Linked DNA regions of Homo sapiens. The gene in region 1 interacts genetically with each later gene. Each region holds a gene or a part of one and is shown on either strand. Other genes may lie near its edges.

Region 1 (4,894 bases):
GGCCGATAGATTCACTTCCTAACCTTATTTATCTCAACCTGGAATATGGAAAATGAAAGAGCTGATAGCAGTGGTATCATTTCCCTACCCACCCAGGGGAGTCTCAACTTGTGAAGACACAGCTCCAAATCCTTACCAGCCCCACTCCACTTGGTTCTGTCCTTGGCTCTTAGCCTATGCTGTCATATGGCATTCTGCTTCTTAGAGGGATTATATCTGAACTGGTATGAGATGTGCTTTGTGGAGCCAGGACAATAACTTTAGTATTAGACCACTCCTCTGCCACCCCAACTCCTCAGCTAGGTTATAAACTTCTTAAAGTTGGGAGTGTGGAGCTTCTTAGATTTTTGGATGCCCACTAAGTATGTTGCTTTACATACTGTAGGTGCTCAAGAAAAATAATGTGGGTGATGTTAGTGGCTAATCCCGAGAAAAACCCAAACCACAGTGACAGGAATAGGGGCCTCAAATTACCAAAAAATGAGGGACCAGACCAAATGTCGATGAGCAAACTGAACTTTAATTTGCTTACCTGAAAGGCTTGCTCTTCATTATTGGCATAGGCCACAGCTATTTACACAGAATCATTGTACAGGATTTACAGCAAGATGCTACACATAGCATCATTCTGGATAAGCGACAAAGGAGTAAGAACAGACTGGGGAATAAAGCTCTGAAATCAAAGTGTAAGCAGAAATCTGAAGGTAGGTGTACAAGGAAGGATAAGGGCCAAATGATGAGCGAGGTTGGTGAGGTAGACATAAGGGAGGAAGAGGAAACATCCAACAACTTGTGGTGCAGAGATATAAGGGAAGAGTCCACTGGCACATAGTCTTAAAAATTATGTTTGGAGTTTGAAGGAGGAAAAATCTGCCATAAGCCACCTCTGTGAGAAAAAAGAAGGCAGTTAGAACCTTACAGGCCAAACCTTATACCTCCCCTATCAAAAAGTAATTCTGCTGATTAAATCCCTGGATAGGAGAATGAGAAGGTTGAAAAAAGAAAGAGAGAGATGCATAGACACAGAACCTTAAACAGAGTTAAGAGACACAAAGTAAATATATTCAAGAGAGACACAAAGAAAGAGGAAAAGAACAGAAGCTCAGGCACATCTAGAAATTAGAGACATCCTATTAACTTCACGAGTCATCTTTCCTTACCTCATCTTCCCCAAAGCTCTTCCTCCACCCCTAAATCTCTGAATTTCTAACTTTAACCAAAGAGTAGAATTCGAATGAGGCTGGCACATGGGGGACGATCTAAGATTCCATCTCACCAATTCAGGTCCCCTCCTTATCCTGTACCGGAAGGTCAGGGCTTGAGTCGTAGCCAGGGATAGATTAGGGTGAGAATAGACAGGATGGAGGACACGAGGCCACAAAGCCCCACAATCCCAGGGCCACAGCGCCAGAGGCCTAGTTTGTCCAGAGGAATGAAGAGATCACAGGCATTTCTGACCACGTCTAGCAGAAGTGGGGGATGACCTCTAAGGACTCGAGCCAGGAGCAGGACTTGCAGCCGAAGTTTCAGAGCCAGTTGGGGCAGACCTCCTCCTGGAGTCCCTGGTCCCCCAAGTCCCCCAGTTTCACTTCCTCCTGGGACTCCTCCTCCAGAACCTTTCAGTCGCCGGCTACAAGCAGAAGACTCTTGCTCCATCAGTAGGCGAATCTCATAAGCATCACGGCTCAAATTCATGATGAGGGAAAACAAATAGTACCTGATACACAGAGCAAAAGGGTCAGTAAGGGCATGTATACCTACTTAACATATCCAACATCACATTTTAACATTTTCTTTTCCTGTAGCAAAGAGATTACACATTAGATCAGAAGTAAAGTGAATGCTATTACCCCTATTAGAAATGTCCTCCATCGAGGACACTATGCTAAGCAAAATAAGCCAGACACAGAAAGACAAATACTGCATAATCTCACTTATAGGTGGAAGCTAAAATAAGGCCGGGCGTGGTGGCTCATGCCTGTAATCCCAGCACTTTGGGAGGCCAAGGCAGGTGGATCACCTGAGGTCAGGAGTTTAAGACCAGCCTGGCCAACATGGTGAAACCCCGTCCCTACTAAAAATACAAAAATTGGCCAGTTGTGGTGGCCAGCACCTGTAATCCCAGCTACTTGGGAGGCTGAGGCATGAGAATTGCTTGAACCCAGGAAGCAGAGGTTGCAGTGAGCCGAGATCTCACCACTGCACTCCGGCCTGGGCAACAAAGCAAGACTCTGTCTCAAAAAAAAAAAAAAAAGGCTAACTCATAGGGGCACAGAATAGAATGGGGGTTGCCAGGGGTTGGGGAGTGAGGGAAATGGGAAGATACTGGTCAAAGCGTATAAGTTTCAGTTATGCAAGATGAGTAAGTTCTGGAGATCTAATGTACTACATTGTGACTATAGTTAACAATACTGTATTGTATATTTGAAATCTGCCAGGAAGGTAGATCTTAAGTGTTCTTACCATAAAAGAAAAAAGGTAATTATGTGAGGTGATGGATATGTTAATTAGCTTGACTGTGGTGATCATGTCACAACGTACATGTACAAACATCGAGCTATAACTCCTTAAATATATGTAATTTCTATTTGTCAATTATGTCCCAATAAAAATGAAGAAACAAAGTCCTCCCAACATTCTGTAACTAATACATGTTTATGTGCACCTTAAGATCCTGGTTTAAACTCCATGAGCATCATGAAATCTTCCAAGGTCAATCTCAAATTTCATTTTCCACTTGGCAACACACACACACACACACACACACACACACACACACTCTCCATCTCTCTCTCAACTTGACCTATAACAAGGCAAACTTGTTTTGAAAGAACAAATTTCAGATGTCTCAGAGACTCAAACATATTAAAGGTGATCTAAATCCAATCCCTATTCCTTTAGAGGCCCAGAGGTTTAAGTAATTGCCAAATGTGTTAAATTATAAATTTCTTCAGTAAAAAATCCATGTTTTTTATTTGTAATCCAATCTGACAATGGTGGTCTGTACTCAATAACTTGTACTACCTTCAAAGTATATCCTGAACCCAACCAACCACATCTCTCTATCACACCGCACTGCCATACTCTAAGCCACTAACATCTCTTGTCTGGACTTCTGCTTTAATGTTTTAACTGGTCTCACTGTGGCCATTGTTGCCCCCACCCCCAACAATCTATTTTCATATAATAGCTAGCATAAACATAAATCACATCATTACTTCCCTTCTTAAAACTCTCCATGGTTGGCCAGGCGTGGTGGCTCACGCCTATAATCCCAGCACTTCGGGAGGTGGAGGCAAGTGGATCATGAGGTCAGGAGTTGGAGACTAGCCTGACCAACGTGGTGAAACCCTGTCTCTACTAAAAATACAAAAATTAGCTGGGTGTGGTGGCGCGTGCCTGTAATCCCAGCTACTCAGGAGGCTGAGGCAGCAGAATCACTTGAACCCAAGAGATGGACGTTGCAGTGAGCTGAGATTGCACCATTGCGCTCCAGCCTGGGCGACAGAGCAAGACTCCATCTCAAAAAAAAAAAAAACCAAAAACAAATAAACAAACCACAGCTCTCCATGGTTTTCTTCCTGTCACATTCATAATAAAATATAAATACCTTAGAGAGGCTTACAGACTCAACATCTGGTCCCTACCCCTCTAACTTTACCTTGTATCATTCTTTCCTGCAATCATTATGCTCCAACCATGTTGGTTTCCTTCTACATTTTAATCCCATCAAGCTTGTTCTTGCCTTAGGACCTTTGCACTACCTATTCCCTCTACCTGGAATATTCTCCCTCCACCTGGAATATTCTCCCTCCAAAACCCTCACATAGCTAGCTCTTTCTTGCTCTTCAGGTATGAGCTTAAGTATCACCTCTTCGGAGACGCCTTCCCTTATCCCTAAATCTAAAGCACTGAGTCAGTTACTCTCTACTCCATAACACTGTTTTAATTTCCTGCATAACATTTACCAGTATCTGATATTTTAATTTATTGTTTATTTATGTTTATCTCATCCCATTACAAGGTAAGTTCCAGAGGAGCAGAGGCCTTGTTTGTCTTTTCTTTTTTTTTGAGACGGTATTTCACTGTTGTTGCCCAGGCTAGAGTACAATGGCACGATCTCGGCTCACCACAAACTCTGCCTCCCGGGTTCAAGCGATTCTCCTGCCTCAACCTCCCGAGTAGCTGGGATTACAGGCATGCGCCACCACACCCGGCTAATTTTGTATTTTTAGTAGAGACGGGGTTTCTCCATGCCGGTCAGGCTGGTCTCAAAACTCCTGACCTCAGGTGATCCGCCCGCCTTGGCCTCCCAAAGTGCTGGGATTACAGGCATGAGCCACCGCACCTGGCCGGCCTTGTTTATCTTTAACCACTGTATCCCTGTATGTACACTGGTGCCTACCATATAGTAAGAGCTCAGTAAGTATCTGTTGGATGAAATGAATAAATATAACATATAGACTCCTTTAGGGAGTTGCTTTTCCATACTGCTCCAGCCATGCCTCTGCTCCCACCCCTCATACATCATAAGCCATGTTAAAGTTGTAAATCACTGAGAAAGATGAAGGGAAAAGCAAGGTTAATATAATGAAAAAGTACAATCATAGGAAAACGAAAAACAATACAGATAATATGTTAGAGAATTTTACTCCCACATCATATTTCTCTCTACCTTTATTGTCAGCTACCTCCTTTGTCCAAGCCAACGTCATCTCTTGCTCGTATTAGGGCATCTCCTCCTCTCTTGACCCACTGCAATCCATTTTCTTTTCTTTTCTTTTCTTTTTTTTTTTTTTTTGAGATGGAGTCTTGCTCTTGTCACCTAGGCTGGAGTGCAATAGCACGATCTCGGCTCACTGCAACCTTTGCCTCCCGGGTTCAAGCGAGTCTC
Region 2 (8,023 bases), on another chromosome or scaffold:
TAAACACAGAGAAGCTTTTCTGGGGGTCAGAGGCCTGATGACAGCAGAAGAGTTAAAGAGATGCGACATTGCTGGCTTTGAAGAGGTTGGAAGGAGGTAACCAGCAAGGAATGCAGGGGGCCCCTAACAAAGGCAAGGAGGTGAATTCCCTGCTAGAGGCTTTAGGAGGGTTTGCAGCCCTGGTGACACCTTGATTTTAGTCCAGTGAGACCTGTGTGAGACTACTGAACTATAGAACTGTAAAACAATACTTTTTTTTTTTTTTTGACATGGAGTCTCACTGTGTTGCCCAGGCTGGAGTGCAGTGGCGTGATCTTGGCTCACTGCAAGCTCTGCCTCCCAGGTTCACGCCATTCTCCTGCCTCGGCCTCCCGGGTAGCTGGGACTACAGGTACCCGCCACCACGCCCGGTTAATTTTTTGTATTTTTACTAGAGACAGGGCTTCACCATGTTAGCCAGGATGGTCTCAATCTCCTGAACTCGTGATCCGCCCGCCTCGGCCTCCCAAAGTGCTGGGATTACAGAAGTGAGCCATTGCGCCTGGCCACATTTTTGTTGTTTTAAGCCACTAAAATTGTGGTAATTTGTTAAGGCAGCAATAGGGAACTAATATACTAGAGAAGCAAGGCAGAAACCAGGTTCCTAGGTTTCAGTTCCTCCCCAGTTCTCTCTGCCTCATCTGCTGTGAGACAGCTTGCTGAATGAGATCCCCTACACCCTCCCCCACAGCACACTCACCTCATTCCACAGGAGTAAACTGCGTGAGAGAATGAAATAGACGATGTAGTGATAAGATGTAGAGCTCTGATTCTGCCTGAGCTCCTAGTTCCAGTCATTTTTTTTTTTGAGGTGGAGTGTCACTGTGTCACCCAGGCTGGAATGCGGTGACGTGATTTTGGCTCACTGAAACTTCCGCCTCCCGGGTTCAAGCAATTCTCCTGCCTCAGCCTCCCGAGTGGCTGGGATTACAGGCTCTCACCACCACCCCCAGCTAATTTTTGTGTTTTTAGTAGAGACGAGGTTTCACCATGTTGGCCAGGCTGGTCTTGAACTCCTGACCCCAACTGATCCACCCATCTCGGCCTCCCAAAGTGCTTGGATTACAGGCTAGAGCCACTGCGCCCAGACATTCAGTCATTTTTGAGGCAAGTTAGCTCAGAATTAAATTTCTGTCCTTACAATTAGCTATCCTGCCTAAATCATAAAGCTATGGTGAGAGAGGGATGGTTGCAGGAGAAGAGGTGTTTTTTGTTGTTGTTGTTTTTTTTTTTTGAGATAGAGTCTCACTCTGTTGCCCAGGCTGTAGTGCAGTGGCGCGATCTTGGCTTGCTGCAACCTCTGCCTCCCAGGTTCAAACAATTCTCCTGCCTCAGCCTCCCCAGTAGCTAGGACTACAGGCGCGTGCCAGCACGCCTGGCTAATTTTTTGTATTTTTAGTAGAGACGGGGTTTCACCGTGTTAGCCAGGATGGTCTCCATCTCCTGACCTCGTGATCCACCCACTTCGGCCTCCCAAAGTGCTGGGATTACAGGTGTGAGGCACCGCACCTGGCCGAGAAGAGGTTTTTTTAAAGGCCTTTTGATATCCGATAATGGTTTAATGTGATTCCCACAGGAAGCCACTGAAGAACACATTATTCTTAGATGCACAAAGACTCTTTTTTGTGGGAAATCCATTTAGCCACTTATTAGTTAAATTGATTTCCCACAAACAAGAGTGTTCTGAACTTAAAACATGAAAGCCGAAATTGGTTTTTTTTCTTCTTTTTTTTTTTTTTTAGTTGGAGTTTTGCTCTTGCCGCCCAGGCTGGAGTGCAGTGGCGCGATCTCGGCTCACTGCAACCTCTGCCTCCCGGGTTCAAGCGATTCTCCTGCCTCAGCCTCCCGAGTAGCTGGGATTACAGGCACGCGCCACACCAGGCTAATTTTTTTTTTGTATTCTTAGTAGAGATGGGGTTTCACCATGTTTGTCAGGCTGGTCTTGAACTCCTGACCTCAGGTGACCCGCCCACCTCGGCCTTCCAAAGTGCTGGGATTACAGGCGTGAGCCACCGGGCCTGGCTCTTTTTTTTTTTTTTTTTTTTTGAGACGGAGTTTTGCTCCTGTTGCCAAGGCTGGAATGCAATGGTGCAATCTCGGCTCACCGCAACCTCTGCCTCCCGGGTTCAAGCAATTCTCCTGCCTCAGCCTCCCGAGTAGCTGGGATTACAGGCGTGCACCATCACGCCCAGCTAATTTTTGTATTTTTAGTAGAGATGGGGTTTCTCCATGTTGGTCAGGCTGGTCTTGAACTCCCGACATCAGGTGATATGCCCACCTTGGCCTCCTGAAGTACTGGGATTACAGGCATGAGCCACCGTGCCCGGCCTTCTGTTTTCTTTAGAAGAAAACAAAAGCTCCATCAACAGAGGGGTGAGAAGCAAAGTGGGTAATATCTGACTATTATGTAATATTATCTTTGGTAGAAAGTCAAGAGACTTGGAATAAAACTGTTTTTTGGAGTTCTGAAATTTTTGTCTTATTTTATCTCTGAAAAATTTTTTTTTTGAAAATAATCAAAGAGGAGATGTTCACAAAACCTGTCAAGATGCCAAAACACCACTAATGGATCTTTAGGTCTTGGCTTACTTCATCCATTTGTTCACAGATATTTATTAAGCACCTGCCATTTGTCCTGCTGAACAAATCAAGCATGTTCCCCGCAGCCATTGTGTACAGCTAAGCAGGTGAATGGCACCCACTGGAGTTGCGTAGTGCACAACTTCCACTACTGCTGGTGGTTCTTGTCCTCATGGAGATTAAATTTAGTAACTTCTAGGAAGTCTTTCTCGAATCTCTATCCTCTTGCTCAGACTGGAAAAAGTGCTCTTATTATGTTTTCTTTTCTCTTTTCTCTTTTTTTTTTTTTGACACAGGGCCTCACTCTGTCACTTAGGCTGGAGTGCGGTGGCACGATCACAGTTCACTGCAGTCCCCACCTCCCAAGCTTAGGTGATCCTCCTACTGCAGCCTCCCAAGTAGTTGGGGCCACAGGTATGCACCACCACGACAGGCAAGCTAATTTTTTTGTATTTTTTGTAGAGACTGGGTTTTGCCGTGTTGCCCAGGCTGGCCTTGAACTCCTGACCTCAAGTGATCTGCCCGTCTCCTGCCTCAGCCTCCTGAGTAGCTGGGATTACAGGAATGCACCACCACGCCCGGTTAATTTTTGTATTTTTAGTAGAGACGGGGTTTCTCCATGTTGGTCAGGCTGGTCTTGAACTCCTGACCTCAAGTGATCCGCCTGCCTTGGCCTCCCAAAGTGCTGGAATTACAGGCGTGAGCCACGGTGCCTGGCCTCTCCTCACCTGCTTTAATTCTTTACTCAAATGTCACCTTTTTACTTTGAGGTTTACTTTTACCTTTGGAGGTTTGGAGTAGAGGAGGGATACTATCTGTCTAAAAAGAAAAACAACATTTAGAAATATAACAGTATGGGCCGGGCATGGTGGCTCAGGCCTGTAATCCCAGGACTGTGGGAGGCCAAGATGGGCGGATCACTTGAGGTCAGGAGTTCGAGACCAGCCTGGCTAACATGGTGAAACCCCGCCCCCCACCCGTCTCTACTAAAAATACAAAAATTTTCCCAGGGTGGTGGCGGGTGCCTGTAATAACAGCTACTTGGGGGGCTGAGGCAGGAGAATCACTTCAGCCTGGGAGGAGGAGGCTGCAGTGAGCCGAGATTGCGCCACTGCATTCCAGCCTGGGCGACAGAGTCAGACTCTGTCTCAAAAAAAAAAAAGAACGGTATGAGCAAAGAGTGAGTAAGGCAGTTATCAGATGTCTACTTTGCCAGGAATCAGGCTACAGCAAATAAAGGTTTATACATAATATTGATAATAAATGCCCAGCTCTTCCCCTGTAAAACTCCAATACTCTAAGATTTTTTTCATGAACACCGCCCCCCGCTGCTCCGACCCCTGCTTTTTTATTTATTTATTTATTTATTTGGTAGAGATGAGGTCTCACTATGTTGACCAGGCTGGTCTCGAACTCCCAGCTCAAGCGATCCTCCTGCTTCTGCTTCCTAAAGTGCTGGGATTACACCGCGCTCGGTCCTGAACACACATTTTGTTTGTTTGTTTGTTTGTTTACAAAACCCCTGGAGAACCCGCGTATTCTAACCTGGGCTGGTTTTTGTATTTTTGCAAAATAACACCCCACACATTCTCGTATCAGCGTGCAGATTTTTTTGCACCCAGTTTGGTTGTTTGCGGCCATAAGCTTTTCTTTAAGCCTTTCCAACCCGTCCTTCTAGAGAAAGTGTCTTCATAAGGAAGTCACACTGCTCACGCCTGTAATCCCAACACTTTGGGAGGCCGAGGCGGGTGGATCACTAGGTCCGGAGATCGAGACCATCCTGGAAAACACAGTGAAACCCCGTCTCTACTAAAAATACAAAAAATTAGCCGGGCGTAGTGGTGGGTGCCTGTAGTCCCAGCTACTCCGAAGGCTGAGGCAGGAGAATGGCGTGAACCCGGGAGGCGGAATTTGCAGTGGGCCGAGATCGCGCCACTGCACTCCAGCCTGGGCGACAGAGTGAGACTCCGTCTCAAAAAAAAAAAAAAAATAAATAAATAAAAAATAAATAAAAGGAAGTGACACTGGATAATTAAGAGACACACCATTGCGCCTTTAACACATATTCACACCCAGCACTGTCACATCCATCGTGCCTTGAGGACAGGCATAAATTTACGGCCTTCCTCCTGCGCTCCCGGCCTGCTCCTAGCCTTTGACTAGAGCCTGCGCAGCATCCCAGTCCCAGGCTAGGGCCCACCGGTGCCGCGCAGCCTCCTGGAAGCTGTGGGGAGTAGCGTTCCTCCGCTCCAGAACTACAACTCCCAGCAGGCCTTGCTCCTCTCCACCTCCCTCGCAGCGCATGGCCTGCCGGGAGGGGGCAGGTAGCCGGCGGGCCCGGTCCAATGGGTGCCGGCTTCCGAGGAGAGGGCGGAGGAGAGGAGGAAGGAGGCGAACTGTGGGCCCCGGCCCCATTCATTGCCGTGGCCGGCGGGCACTGGGGCCCCGTGTTTTCAGAGTCATGGAGGCGCTAATTCCTGTCATAAACAAGCTCCAGGACGTCTTCAACACGGTGGGCGCCGACATCATCCAGCTGCCTCAAATCGTCGTAGTGGGAACGCAGGTGAGAGCAGCAGGCGGCGTTCGCTCGGGCCAGACCCCGGCCGCAGGCCTGGTCGGTGCTGCGGCAGTGCCCACTCCCGCGCCAGCGCCCACTCCCGCGCCAGCCTTTGGGGCCTGTGGGAGGAGGGCCTTGCTGGGGGCCCCAGGGCTCTCCGGGCTCTGCCGCACCCGCCCTCCCGGGGCAGCGTTGCATCAAGGCGGAGAATCCGGGGCCCGGCCAGGGGCGGAGCCGGCGCGGCGGGCCTGGCTAGCCCGGCGGGTCCCGGGGACAGGAGAGGGAAGGATGGGGCCGGCGGGCGGAACTGGAGTCCGCTGGGACCGGGCGCGGCCTCGTCCGCGTGCCGCTGCCTCCAAGGGCACCTGGGGGACGCGCGGGGCACTCGGGTCTCGCTGGGCTCGGTGGGCTGGCTGTTCCCATCACTGTTGGCTTTCGTGAGACGGGTGTTTTATTTCCCTCCTTGCCTTGCCCAGGGACTGCGGAGTTAGTTTTGGAATCGCTCTGTTGAGGCTGAGAGACGCTACGGTGCGTGAGCGCCAGTGTTTTCCTGCAGTATAATTCCACCAGGTTTCGAGAACGCCGAAGCAGCATTTTAAAAAAAGAAAAACAAAACGTGTATCTAGAGTTCTGCGGGTGTTGGGAAGGAATATCCGATTTTTCTGCGTAGGCTGTGCTTTTTGTCTTCCACAGTTTTGTGATCGTGACCTAAATTGGGCATCAGTTTCTCTGGTCTTCTCATAGCTAACTCATTTTTTTTTGAATGCAGAAATGTTGGCAAAATAACTGTTATTTCTAGAGTGACAGAGGAGAAGTATAATTTTCCTTTTCTCTGCTACTTCGATTAGAGTTCAGAGAAACGGATTTTAGAAATTAGTATATTGATATTAAGTGCTTTCATTTCTTAATAGTATCTTTTCTATTGAGAAGGAGCGGTTTCCCCATCATTTTCCAGGAGGTACATAGTATAGGGTATAAGTGCTATCAGAAGGAACTTACTGTTCAAAGTATTAGTGGCTATCCAAACACTGGAAACTATAGACACCCTGTACTCGTTTGTTTGTTTGTTTGTTTTTTTGGCTTTTAAATAGTTGAAGCAATAGAAATTGTTTTAGAAACACATTTCCTTGGTCTGCGATAGGATTGGGAAAGATTCTGCTCAATCTTGCCTACGTATTCTAGTATTTGTAACAATATTTGTAATGTTTGGAGACTCAGAAGCATCAAACAAATTACGAGGATTATTTTTTATTGAACATAATTTTGTTCAGTCTGGGACATATAGTAAGTGCTCTGTAAATATTTTGAGTAAATATTGCTCACTCTAACCACAATGTTTTAAAACACTGGGACTTTTATCATCAAAACTAACCTGTTTTTGTAAAAAGTTAGAGATAATATAAATTAAGTCTTTGATAGTAAGTGATTCAGAAGTGTCTTCTAGCTGCACACTAGAAACTTTCCACATACTTTTAAAAGAGAGTCTCAGTGCTTTTTAAGCATGAGGAAGTAAAAGAATTAGGGATATAGTGTGTCAGCATAAATAGTTTAAAATCAATAAGTTGTTTTTTTCTTTTTACACAAAATAGAGTTTATTTTGGTCAGTAAACCTGTTGGCAAAATACAGAGTGGCAGGAGAGAAAAGTAAAGATCCCATCCTTCTGAAAGCCATTAACATGTGCAAAAACCATCCTAGTACTGACAGTTATATGCTATATTTGCATGTTGGTGTTTGAAATTTCTCAAGAGGTCAGTTTTTCTACTTGATTTAATGAGGGTTATTTCCATCTAAGTTCTTATTAGCTGATAATCAGTCTTTTACTCAAGTACAGAAGAAATACAGAATAGAAATTATCCGAGGTAGGCAGATCACTTGATTCCAGGAGTTCAAGACCAGCCTGGGCAACGTGGGGAAACTCCATCTTTACGAAAAATACGAAAATTAGCTGGGCATGGTGGTGCGAACCTGTAGTCCCAGCTACTCTGCAGGCTGAGGTGGGAGGATCACCTGAGCCTGGGAGGTTGAGGCTGTGGTGCGTGCAGGAGTGCATGTCACTGCACCCCAGCAGAAAGAGAGAGAATAGAAACTATTTTCTCCCCACACCGCCCCCCCCGCCCCTATTTTCTCCCCACACCGCCCCCCCGCCCCCGCCTTTTTTGTAGTGTGTTGGGGAAACAAGAATCTCTTCTTGGTTTGAATACTAGTATACCATTACTTTGTGATGTCTGCCATTTTTACTCTTTGGTGTTGTGTAACATATATGTATACCTCACATTTATATTTAATGAAGTAATTGTAGTGAGTGAGTTCCAGACATATAAGTGTTCTGTACTTAGTTCTGCCTAGTATACCTATCGGCAGTAATTGTGTCTTCAGAATACAGGTATAAATTAGCCAGGTGCTATGGTGTGTAGTGTGTGCCGGTAGTCCCAGCTACTTGGGAAGATTGCCTGAGTCCAGGAGTTTGAGGCTGCAGTGAGCTATGATTCTGCGATGGCACTCCAGCCTGGGCGACAGAGTGAGACCCTGATTCTTCCAAAAAAAAATTAAAAAACAACTTCAAGTGTAGTCTCTATCCTACATATTATCCATACCTTAAATGGCTTCAGTTTCTATCTTGTTGAACTTTTTGGAACAGTGATTCTCAGACTTGAGTGTGTATTAAGAATCACTTTGGTTTTTTTTTTTTGAGACCGAGTTTCGCTCTTGTTGCCCAGGCTAGAGTGCAGTGCCATGATCTTGGTTCACTGCAACCTCTGCCTCCCGGCTTCAAGTGATTCTCCTGCCTCAGCCTCCCACATAGCTGGGATTACAGGCATGCACCACCACGCCCGGCTAATTTTGTA

What was found.
Region 2: of PEX11B (region 1) and DNM1L, changing one enhances a phenotype caused by changing the other (phenotypic enhancement), as found in Homo sapiens cells (one study listed by BioGRID).

Annotation. Positions count from the first base shown.
Region 1 is NC_000001.11:145,910,850-145,915,743, forward strand, and holds the end of PEX11B (peroxisomal membrane protein 11B), read right to left. Parts: intron 1,718-4,894; coding exon 1,312-1,717; 3' UTR 501-1,311; downstream 1-500. UniProt on the Homo sapiens protein: Involved in peroxisomal proliferation. May regulate peroxisome division by recruiting the dynamin-related GTPase DNM1L to the peroxisomal membrane. Promotes membrane protrusion and elongation on the peroxisomal surface.
Region 2 is NC_000012.12:32,674,284-32,682,306, forward strand, and holds the start of DNM1L (dynamin-1-like protein), read left to right. Parts: upstream 1-5,017; 5' UTR 5,018-5,080; coding exon 5,081-5,182; intron 5,183-8,023. UniProt on the Homo sapiens protein: Functions in mitochondrial and peroxisomal division.